Regions from separate parts of the Homo sapiens genome. Here region 1 is linked to region 2. The links come from fine-mapping of genetic effects on gene expression. A gene starts in region 2. The other region holds a variant in brackets. All regions are shown on one strand. Distances are between the middles of the regions. Region 1 overlaps C6orf132 (chromosome 6 open reading frame 132). Region 2 holds the start of C6orf132 (chromosome 6 open reading frame 132).

What was found. PIP is the estimated chance that this variant, and not a neighbour inherited with it, causes the effect.
Region 1: its variant is the best candidate, but not a certain one, in a credible set for the expression of C6orf132 in lung (TOPMed, PIP 0.56).

The regions. Positions count from the first base shown.
Region 1 is chr6:42,108,351-42,113,724 of GRCh38, forward strand. It overlaps C6orf132 (chromosome 6 open reading frame 132), which reads right to left. Exons shown (of 5, transcript NM_001164446.3): 3 at 1,866-1,941. Among named protein-coding and RNA genes, the nearest start is that of C6orf132, 32 kb to the right of the region's middle. The variant G/T (reference allele first, on the strand shown) is at 2,783.
Region 2 is chr6:42,140,350-42,145,723 of GRCh38, forward strand. C6orf132 (chromosome 6 open reading frame 132) reads right to left here and starts at 2,271. Exons shown (of 5, transcript NM_001164446.3): 1 at 1,951-2,271. The coding sequence starts at 2,095. RefSeq lists an enhancer at 846-1,525.

The DNA.
Region 1 (5,374 bases), 32 kb before region 2:
GGGCTTGTCATGGTGCCAGGCCTCCAGTAGGCATTTAATAAAATGGAACCACTTTGATTCCTACCATCTGTGCTTAACTTTTCAGACTGTGTGAGACAGGGAAGGTGGGAAAGAGATAGGAAGTCATGGGGCAGGGGCGAGAGACCTCCTCAGTGAGGAAGGCTGGGTGAGAGACCCGCAGGAGGGAGCAATTTGCACAAACTACTCCTGCTTTCTAAAGACCCTGAAACTATTAAGAACCCAGCTGTCCACTTCATAGAGAATGGAGGCAGATTCTGGACTGCAGAATAGAACAGGGGTGTGCAGAAGGAAGGTGGCCTGGACAATCTGGGTGCTAAAGAGATGCTGAGAGCCCCTGGCCCCAGCAGCGCACATCCCTCTCTTGTCCTCGGACCAGGTCCCCAGCCCCTCTCCCAGAGTCTACTTCCTTCTTAGGGGCACCCATCCTTTGCTCCCCTCCTCTCAGTCCCTAACAGTGTGGCGAACCTGGGGAGTGTGCGGCTCTGAAGGGCTCCTCCCAGCTGCCTGACTTCAAACTGAAGAAACCAAGAGTGGGGAAGGGGAAAACTAACATTCACTGAGCACCCAACTGTCAGGCAGGACTTAGGAGCTGGGGTACAGCAGCAAAAAAACCAACAAAACAAAAAACAGACAAACACTGGTCCTCCTAGGGAGCTTACGCTTGAACGGGACAATGAACATAATGTGTGAGTACATTATTATCACATTAGAGGATGAGTGCGATGGGAAAAAACACCAGCAGGGGAGGGGTGCAGCAGGTGCAATTTAAATAGGGCAGTCCGGCCGGGTGCGGTGGCTCACACCTGTAATCCGAGCACTTTAGGAGGCTGAGGCAGGTGGATCACGAGGTCAAGAGATAGAGACCATCCTGGCCAACATGGTGAAACACTGTCTCTACTAAAAATACAAAAATTAGCTGGGCATGGTGGTGTGCACCTATGGTCCCAGCTACTCAGAGGCTGAGGTGGGAGAACTGCTTGAACCCGGGAGGCAGAGGTTGCAGTGAGCTGAGATCACACCACTGCCCTCCAGCCTGGCAACAGAGCGAGACTCCATCTCAAATAAATAAATAAATAAATAAATAAAGCAGTCTGAGAAGGCCTCGCAGAGAAGGTGACATTTGAGCAAAGAAGGGAGGAGTGAGGGAGACGGCCACACAGATGCCTCGCAGAAGAGCATTCTAACCTGAGAGGTCTGCAGTGCAAAGACCCCAAGGCGGAAATGTGCCTGGGGTATTTCAGGAGCAACAGGAGATGCTGTGGCCGGGGCAGTGTGGGAGGGGAAAGCAAGCAAGCAAAGTGGCCAGACTCCGGTCAGACTCCAGCAGTCCTTGCAAGAACCTTTTCTCTGAGTGACACGGGAAGCCATTAGTGAGTTTGAAGCACCTCTGAGAGGTGTGACAGACATGACATACATCCCATCCACCACTTCATTTACTCCTCCAAACTGAACTGTTGTTCCCATCGTTCGTTGGAAGATACAGAGGTAGGAGGGGTGAAGTGTCTTGCCCAAGGGAGCAAAGTGAATATGTGGGGAGCTGGGATTCAAAGCCAGGCCCTTCTTCCACTTTATGCTGCACTTGTTCCTGCTCTGGCTTTGTCCCCTTGCCATCCTTCCCCCGCCAGAAAGGGGCCTTCACTGACCGTGGCTCTCCTCAACTCCCAGCCCCACTGCCCTAGCCCACTGCGGCCAGTAATCAAGATGACTGAGGATGGCGAGAGTGGCTGTGCCTGAGGACTCTGGCTTTGTCACCAGCTGTGAAGATGAGCAGATGCTTAGCTTTTGAACTCAGGGCCCTAGGAGGAAAGAAAGATGGACAAGCCCCAAGCCCAGGGTTCACTTACCTGTCACTTCTTTGTCTGCAAAATCATCTGGAACCGAGGGGGTGGGCACAGCCAGCCCATGGTTTTCCTGGGCATTCTGAAAGAGACCAGAAAGAAATCAGGGGACAGGGAAAGATGGACAGATAATTCTCAAACTGCTGCTCTTTGAGGCCATTTTACTGCTTGAAAATCTGCAGTGACGGTCATGGTTGCATAACCTTGTGCATATACCAAAATATAAAAGGCTGATTTTAAAAAGTGAATCTTGTGGTACAGTCAACCAATCATCACTATTTGTCATAGTTATGTTCTATAAAGTTGCAATGAACATAGTATTAGTAAATACTGACCCGTTGCTCCTAGGGGAAATACAGGGTTAGGTTCCTATGAGCCTCTGGTCACAAGATTTTTGTCAACTGATCAATACATAACCATAACCTTGTTTTAGCTGTGTTTCTGCTTAAAGACATTTTAATATATTTTGTTGGTTGGTTAACATTGAACTCATGGCCGATAGCACTATAACACATGACACTAAACAGAAAAAGACACTTGTTTTTGTATGACAGCTAAAACAAGAAGGCATAGAATCCTCTTGTTCAGCTGGGAACATGTGCATTGAGCAACTCAAAATTTTCACTGCTCTGTGCATGTCTGCAAATGACCACAGAAGCAACACAAGCATTGATTCTGGGGTTACAAATACGTTTTAGCCACTAAGCAAATTTGCAAATACAGAATCCACAAATAGGGAGGATTGACTGTATATGAATTCCATCTCGATGAAAAAGACAAAACAAACAAATAGAATCTGCATTGACTCTCCATGGAGGTCCACAGGTGAAAAGCCAAACTCCTCAGCCTGGCCTCCTGTGTGTTCTTAGTTTTCATTAGGTGTTTACAGAAAAATAAAAAGTGATGAACTTGAATTTTTTTTT[G/T]TTTTAATTGAGACAGGGTTTTATTCTGTCACCTAAGCTGGAGTGCAGTGGTGCAATCATGGCTCACTGCAGCCTCCATCTCGTGGCTCAAGCAATCTTCCCATCTGTAGCTGGGACTACAGATGTGTGCCACCATTCCTGGCTAATTTTTTTTTTTTTTTTTTTTGAGATGGAGTCTTGCTCTGTCACCCAGGCTGGAGTGTAATGGCATGATCTCTGCTCACCACAACCTCTGCCTCCTGGGTTCAAGCAATTCTCCTGCCTCAGCCTCCCGAGTAGCTGGGATTACAGGGGCGTGCACCACCATGCCCAGCTAATTTTTTGTATTTTTAGTAGAGACGGGGTTTCACCATGTTGGCCAGGCTGGTCCTGAACTCCTGACCTCGTGATCTGCCCACCTCTGCCTCCCAAAGTGCTGGGATTACAGGTGTGAGCCACCGCGCCCAGCCCTGGCTAATTTTTTGTATATGTTTTAGAGAATGTGGTTTCGTCATGTCTCCCAGGCTGGTCTTGAACTCCTGGGCTCAAGTAATCCGCCCACCTTGGCCTCCCAAAGTGTGGGGATAACAGGTATGAGCCACTGTTCCCAGCCTGAACTTGAATATTTATAGCTCTACAGATGCCCTTCTGATCGCTAAGCTTAAGAGGCTATAATATTTTTACACAGCTGTCAGTTTGTACATACTATTTTGCATTCTATTTTTTTTTTCCAAACACACATTTCCATATGTCAACAAAGTCCACACACCTGCTGTTTTGAAGAGCTGTAGAGCATTTTAGGGTAGTTTTCAAGGTCCCCAATGACCTGGCCTCATGCTTCCCAGCCAACTGTTATTTCCCACTCACCTATTACACCCATCCCACATTGTAGCTTCACCGACTCCCTCCCTGCCACCTTTTCAACCACCCCATATAGTCCGTGTTCATCCATGATGCTGGGCATTGGTCAGCTGTACCTGTCATTCCCACTCTCCATTTATAACAATAATCATAGTCATAATACTCCTTGCACTGTGCTCTAACTAAACACATTATCTCAGTCACACCACTCTGTATAGAAGAGGATGTCATCATTTACCAGATGAAGAAACTGAGGCTCAAAGACCTTTGGTAAGTTGTCTAAAGTCACACAACCAGTACTACCAAACCCAGGTCTGTGGAGCTCCCACTCCTTAGTATTTTGCCTCCCTAAAATCCCTTATCCTTCAAGGATTAGCTGAGCCCCTCTAGGATGATGGAACAGGGGTAGGGGATAAGAGCATTGGCTCTGGCTTTCCAGCCTGTCTGGATTTGAATATCAGATCTGCTACCTATTAGGTGTATGACTATGCAAGTTACTTAATCTCCCTGTGTCTCAGTTTCCCCATCTGGGAAATGGTGATAACAATACAATTACCCATAGTAGGGAAGCTGTGAGGACTAAATGATGCAATGCACAAAAAGCACTTGGGAGCCATCCCCTGTCCGCACCACACTGACCCACTGCTACCCAGAGCAACCCACAGCCAAGCTCCCAAAAGAGGGGAGACACTTGTTTGCACTCCAGATTGTCCTCTAGTTCCTTCAGTGAGATCTGGGAGCTCCTTGGAGCCCAGGGACCATGTCTTATGGTATCCCCCAAAGCTGGATGCATAGTGAGCCCAGTTGTTAGTGATGGGCTGATGGTACTAACCCTCTGGACTTAATATACAAGAAGGGCACTCAAGGTCGATGTTACAGAAATATCTATGAGACCCTGGGTTACCAAGGGCCATCTCAGAATTACTCTGGTCACTTGGGATCAGCAAACCACTCATCTTGTTCTTGAAGAATTCTGAAGCTGGAATGGCCTTGAGCCATCAACTTGTCTTTTTTTTTTCCTGCCTTTACTTGATTTGCATGGCCAACAACATACCTGTTCTCAACTTTTCTCAAACCCAGTGATTGGGAACCAGGGGCAGGTATAGGGACCCAGCCCATCAGAAGTGTGTCTCCCATGACATCCTGAGATGTGCCACACACACATGCAAATCACTGACATTCTAATAACCTCCATCAAGTACACACACTCTGATTTTGATGAGATGGAGGCCAGGCCTTCAAAAGCCAGGGTTGAGATCTCTGATTAATTTCAACATAATTGAAAAGCGGAAAGGCTGGGGACTTAGCATCAAAAGTCTTGGGTTCCATTCATGCTCAGGCTTGCCAGCAGTGTAGCCTTGGATGAGCAGTGGAGATGTGGGATGGGGACAGTGATGTTGAGCCATTGTCCAGGCTCCTCCTGTGCAATAGCCCTATACTAAGAGTGTGACCGGTGTCACCTCAAATCCCTTCACAGAGCCAGGGTGCAAACCTAGGCTTTCCACCTTACCTTTTCTACAGATCACTGAGACCCATTTTCTTCACTTAGAAAACCAAGGCAGCTGGGCATGGTGGCTCACGCCTGTAATCCCAGCACTTTGGGAGGCCAAGGCAGGAGGATCACCTGAAGTCAGGAGTTCAAGACCAGCCTGGCCAACATGGCAAAACCCCATCTCTACTAAAAATACAAAAATTAGCCAGGCATGGTGGCAGGTGCCTGTAATCCCAGCTATTCAGGAGGCTAAGGCAGGG
Region 2 (5,374 bases):
CGTGGCTGAGAGGCATGGCTGAGGTCTCCCCTTGAGGGAGGAAGGGTGTGTGTGTGTGTATGTGTGTGGTATTTTCCAGGCAGATGCCCCTCAAGTAAACTTGGATCGCCTTCCTCTGCAGAGTTAATTCAGCAAACCCGCTAAGAGTGTGATCTCTGGAGCCTGACTGCCTGGATTCAAATACTAGTTCTGCCTCACAAGGGAGATTTTGGAGGTCATCGAAATGTTCTAAAACCAGATGGTGGTGATAATGGCACAACTCTGTGTAAATGGTCTACTAAAAATCATTGAATTGTGGACTTAGAAAAATGCTGCCTCCAGCATTGAAAGCTGTATGATCTTGGGCATATTACTTAACCTCCCTGTGCCTCAGTCTCCTCATCTGTCAAACAGGAATGACAATAATAGTGCCTGACTCTAGATGAGATTTCAATGAATCAGTAACACAAAGATTTTAGAATGGCATCTTGCACCTAAGAAGGGATTAATAAATGGTCTTTCCATGGTGCCTCCGTTGAGAGGGAAAGAAGTGTCCTGGCTCACAGGCACTTGCCTGCACACCTGTGTCTGGGAGTGCCTACACCATGCCTCCACTTGCCCTGCTCCTCCTGGTCTTTGCTTCTACTGTTTGTTTTGCCAGGAATGCCCTCTCCTGTCAGCTCGAATGCTAGTTCCACTCAGAGGTCATCTCTCTTCTTTGCTTTTATGCTTAATAATCATTTACAGCAAAGGCTCAGAAAGGGCTAAATGGCATATGGTTAGTTCTGTTCACCCCCTGATCTGATATCTTTGTGCCAGGAAGAGGCGACACTTTGTCCGTCCTGCTCCTATCCATGGTGCCTTGTGTCCTGGCTGTGGCAACCTGCATGCTGAACTGAGTCCAACAGCAGGCACCAAGGCTATGACATCCACTGTGGGTCCCAGCACAGTGGCTATAAAGATCAGTGAAGATAATATGGTGAGAATGAAGGCAGGCAAGCTAAAGCAGTGATGGGTGACCTTCCTTGGGCCCAGAAGCCCCCTGCCCCCCCAACCTGGGCGTTCCAGAGCCACATGTCATACACAAGAAATGGATTTCTGTCTCCAGCCGCTGGCTTCCCCTAGTTATAGAGAATACAAATTGCAAAACGATGCAATGATAAGATGACCCACAGCCAGAGCCTGGGGATGAGCCAAGGCGGTGCTTTTAGAGGCCTGCAGAGACACACCAGTCTGATTCCAGGGTCAGCGGCAGCTGGCAGTCAGGGAGAGGGTTCCTTGGCCTCCACTGTCCCATTTCTGGCTCCTCGGTCTTAGCCCAGAGACAGCCCAGGTCCCAGGTTGAACTGGCAGGAGCCTGTGGCCCCAATAAGTGACTTGGTGTCACAAACAGGCTGGTAACCTGGTAGCAGCTGCGCCTGTTGTTTTTTCCTGGGCCTCACCTAGCCAGAGCCAAGTTTGTGAGCACCCAGATAGCAGGCCCCTCTCTGCCACGTGGGCTTGGGAAACAGGGAGTGCAAAGGGTGAGGGAGGAGTTCTTAGCCCCTTAGCCCCCAGTTCTTCAGGAACACTTTTGCTTCAGCCAGAATGGGGGTGTAGCGGTGGGGGTCGGGGGAGATATCGCAAACCTCCGGAAGCCTTTCCGCTAACAGTAACACAAGCATAGGATTCGCCAAGAGGGGGAATTAAACACCTCCGAATAAGGCCTGGGGTCAGAGGTGGGGGCGGCAAAGTTCTCCCACCTCCCCGTGGTGGTGGGGGGGGTCCCCTCGTTCCCCACACCTCTCTCACCGCACAGCCCTTCCCAGACACCCCTGTGCGGTGCCTCCTCCCCTGCCCGGCGGCTGCTCTCGGCCAGTCCGCAGGTTCCAACGTGTCCCTCCCCTCCGCGCCTCCAGGAGACAGCACCGCCGGCCCTGCCCCAGCGCCCTCCGTCCCCGCCCCAGCGCCCTCCGTCCCCGGAGTACTCACCGAAGCCCCCGGTCCCCTCCTCCGGGGCCTCCTGGGTGAAGATCCAGGGCGGATTGGTGGCGTAGAGGGAGGTGCTGGGGGTCGTGGTGTGCTTCTTCCCGAAGAGTTTGCTGAAGGTGCCCTGCACCGTCTGCTTCTTTTTCATGCTGCCGCAGCCCGCGCGGGCGCCAGGGAAGGACCTTCCCTCCCTCGCCCTGCCCTGCCCCGGACTGAACTCAGCACGGTCTCCCCAGGGGACTCTACCAGGCCATGTCCCCCGCCGTCCTCCCCGCCCGCGCACCGGGCAACAGGTGCTGCGGGCGCCGCCGCTTGCCGGGAAATGCGAGCTACCTGGCCAGGTAAAAGGCAGCCGCTTGGCCGGGCCCCGCCCCGCCGCCGCCCAGCTCCCCAGGCCGCATTCCTTCCCGCCTCCTTCTACAACAGGCCATTGTTGGCACGGCCCGGTGGGCTGGGGACCTCGCCCGGCCCACGCCCAGCCTGGGAGACGGGCCACCCCCTCCCCCAGGTTCCTCCCTGCACGCCTCCTTCACCCCACTTCCCCCTAGTCCGGGAAAGGAGGCGGGTGAGTTTCCAGCCTCTCAAGGCGATTCGTGACCAGGTCAGTATGGGTACATCGGGGACAGCTCTAGTGTCCAACACGAGGGACATGGATGGCCAAAGCGAGCACGCCACGGCATCCTATAGCCCCTCAAATATGTGGGGCGTGAGGCTTCGGGGAACATCAGGAAGTGCCTGTAAGAGAAAAGTAAGCTGGGAAAAGCAAGAAAATGACAAACTAGTATACCAATCTGATGACGAGGGTGGAAAAACATCCTCATTGACAGGGCTCCGAAGAGAATGTGGGATGACGAAATCTTGGCATTCTGTGTCTGTACATCACATTGTTTTTCTTTTTCTTTTCTTTTCTTTTCTTTTTTTTTTCCTTTGGACGGAGTCTCGCTCTGTTGCCCAGGCTGGAGTGCAGTGGCGCCATCTCGGCTCACCGAAACCTCCCGGTCTCGGATTCAAGCGATTCTCCTGCCTCAGCCTCCCGAGTAGCTGGGATTACAGGCACGCACCACCACGCCCGGCTAATTTTTGTATTTTTAGTAGAGACAGGTTTTCACCATGTTAGCCAGGCTGGTCTGGAACTCCTGACCTCGTGATCTGCCGGCTTCGGCCTCCCAAAGTGCTGGGATTACAGGCGTCGGCCACCGCGCCTGGCCCACATTCTTTTTTTTCTGTGAAGTTAAGTGAATATAATTTTTGAAAACCTAAAGTGGGTAGAGCCCACTTAGGGTTGGGTTCACTCTCCAGGGAGACAAACAGTGGTACTTTAAGGCACTTAGGGTAACATCCTAGCCAAGCCAGGGGTGGCTATCCACGGGGGAAATTTCCTCCGATGAGGAGGGGGAGAGCCTGCGTGAAGATGCTGAGAGCAGAGGTGCAGGCCAAGTGGGTGGAGTTTGATGTTTTCTGGGCAGCAGGGGGCATAGGCTGGTGCAAGTTGCCATTTCTGCTGAGCTTCCGGGGGACAGGGCCCACTGCCACATTTCCCCTCAGTTTCCCCCAGATCTTACACCAAAGGCGTTTTCCCTCAACTTTTCACTCTGAAACATTTCAAACCTTCAGAGAACTTACAAGAATTGTACAATGACCACCTGTGTACCCTTCTCCCTGGATTCACCAATTGTTAACTCATTGCTAAATTCATCCCTCTCTCTCTCTGTCTCTCTCTCTCCCGGATTCTTTTCCTTTTCATTTTGCTGAAGCTTGGAAGTTGTAGATACCGTGGCCCATTTCTTAGCCTCCCCCAGTACTTCAGCATCGATGTCTAAGAGTAGGAACATTCTCCTACATGGCCACAATACAACTGTCACACTCAGGAGATCTAACATTGCCAGGCACGGTGGCTCACGCCTGTAATCCTAGCACGTTGGGAGGCCAAGGCAGGTGGATCACTTGAGGTCAAGAGTTTGAGACCAGCCTGGCCAACATGGTGAAACTCCGTCTCTACCAAAAATATTTAAAAAATCAGCTGGGCGTGGAAGTGTGTGCCTGTAATCCCAGCTACTAGGGAGGCTGAGGCAGAAGAATCACTTGAACCCGGGAGGCAGAGGTTGCAGTGAACCAAGATCATGCCATTGCACTCCAGCCTGGGCAACAAGAGTGAAACTCCGTCTCAAAAAAATTAAAAAACAGGCCAGGTGCGGTGGCTCACGCCTGTAATCCCAGCACTTTGGGAGGCCGAGGCAGGTGGATCATGAGGTCAGGAGATCGAGACCATCCTGGCTAACACGGTGAAACCCCGTCTCTACTAAAAATACAAAAAAAAAATTAGCCAGGCGTGGTGGCGGGCACCTGCAGTCCCAGCTACTCAGGAGGCTGAGGCAGGAGAATGGTGTGAACCTGGGAGGCGGAGCTTGCAGTGAGCCGAGATCGTGCCACTACACTCCAGCCTGGGCGACAGAGCAAGACTCCGTCTCAAAAAAATAAAAAAAAAAAAAATAAATAATAATAAAAAAAACAAACAAACAAAAAAAGAATTTCACAATTATCCCCTCAAATGTCATTTTAGTTTTTTTGTTCCTTTTTTTTTTTTTTTCGAGACAGAGTCTTGCTCTGTCGCCGAGGCTGGAGTGCTGTGATGCAATCTTGGCTCACTGCCACCTCCGCCTCCCGGGCTCTAACGATTCTCCTGCCTCAGCCTCCCAAGTAGCTGGGACTACAGGTACCCGCCACAATGCCCAGCTAATTTTCATATTTTTAGTAGAGATGGGGTTTCACCATGTTGGCCAGGCTGGTCTCAAACTCCTGACCTCAAGTGATCCACCCACCTCAGCCTCCCAAAATGCTGGAATTATAGGCGTGAGCCACCTTGCCAGCCAAGTGGCTCCATTTGTTTGCAACTTCTACTATATAACTATTATTATTATTATATGTATATTTTTTAGATGGAGTCTTTCTCTGTCACCCAGGCTGGAGTGCAGTGGCGCAATCTCGGCTCACTGCAACCTCCACTTCCCAGATTCAAGTGATTCTTCTGTCTAAGCCTCCCGAGTAGCTGGGATTACAGGTGCCCACCACCATGCCCGGCTAATTTTTGTATTTTTAGTAGAGATGGGGTTTTACCATGTTGGTCATTCTGGTCTTGAACTCCGGACCTCAGGTGATCCACCGGCCTTGGCTTCCCAAAGTGCTGGGATTACAGGCATGAGCCACCGCACCCGGCCTGTAACTAATATTCTTGAGAGCCACTGTGTGCCACACGCTGGGCTGTGAAAGAGCCAGAAAAATTAAAGACATGGTTCTTGAGTCCAGGTTGTTATATAGTCTGTGGAGACAGGCAGTGACCTGTGGAGAGCTGGGCAGTGGGGAGGTAACTGAAAGGAAGGAAATGAAGGGGGGAAAGTGCAGAGCAATTTGGGGGCTGCAGGATCTGGGG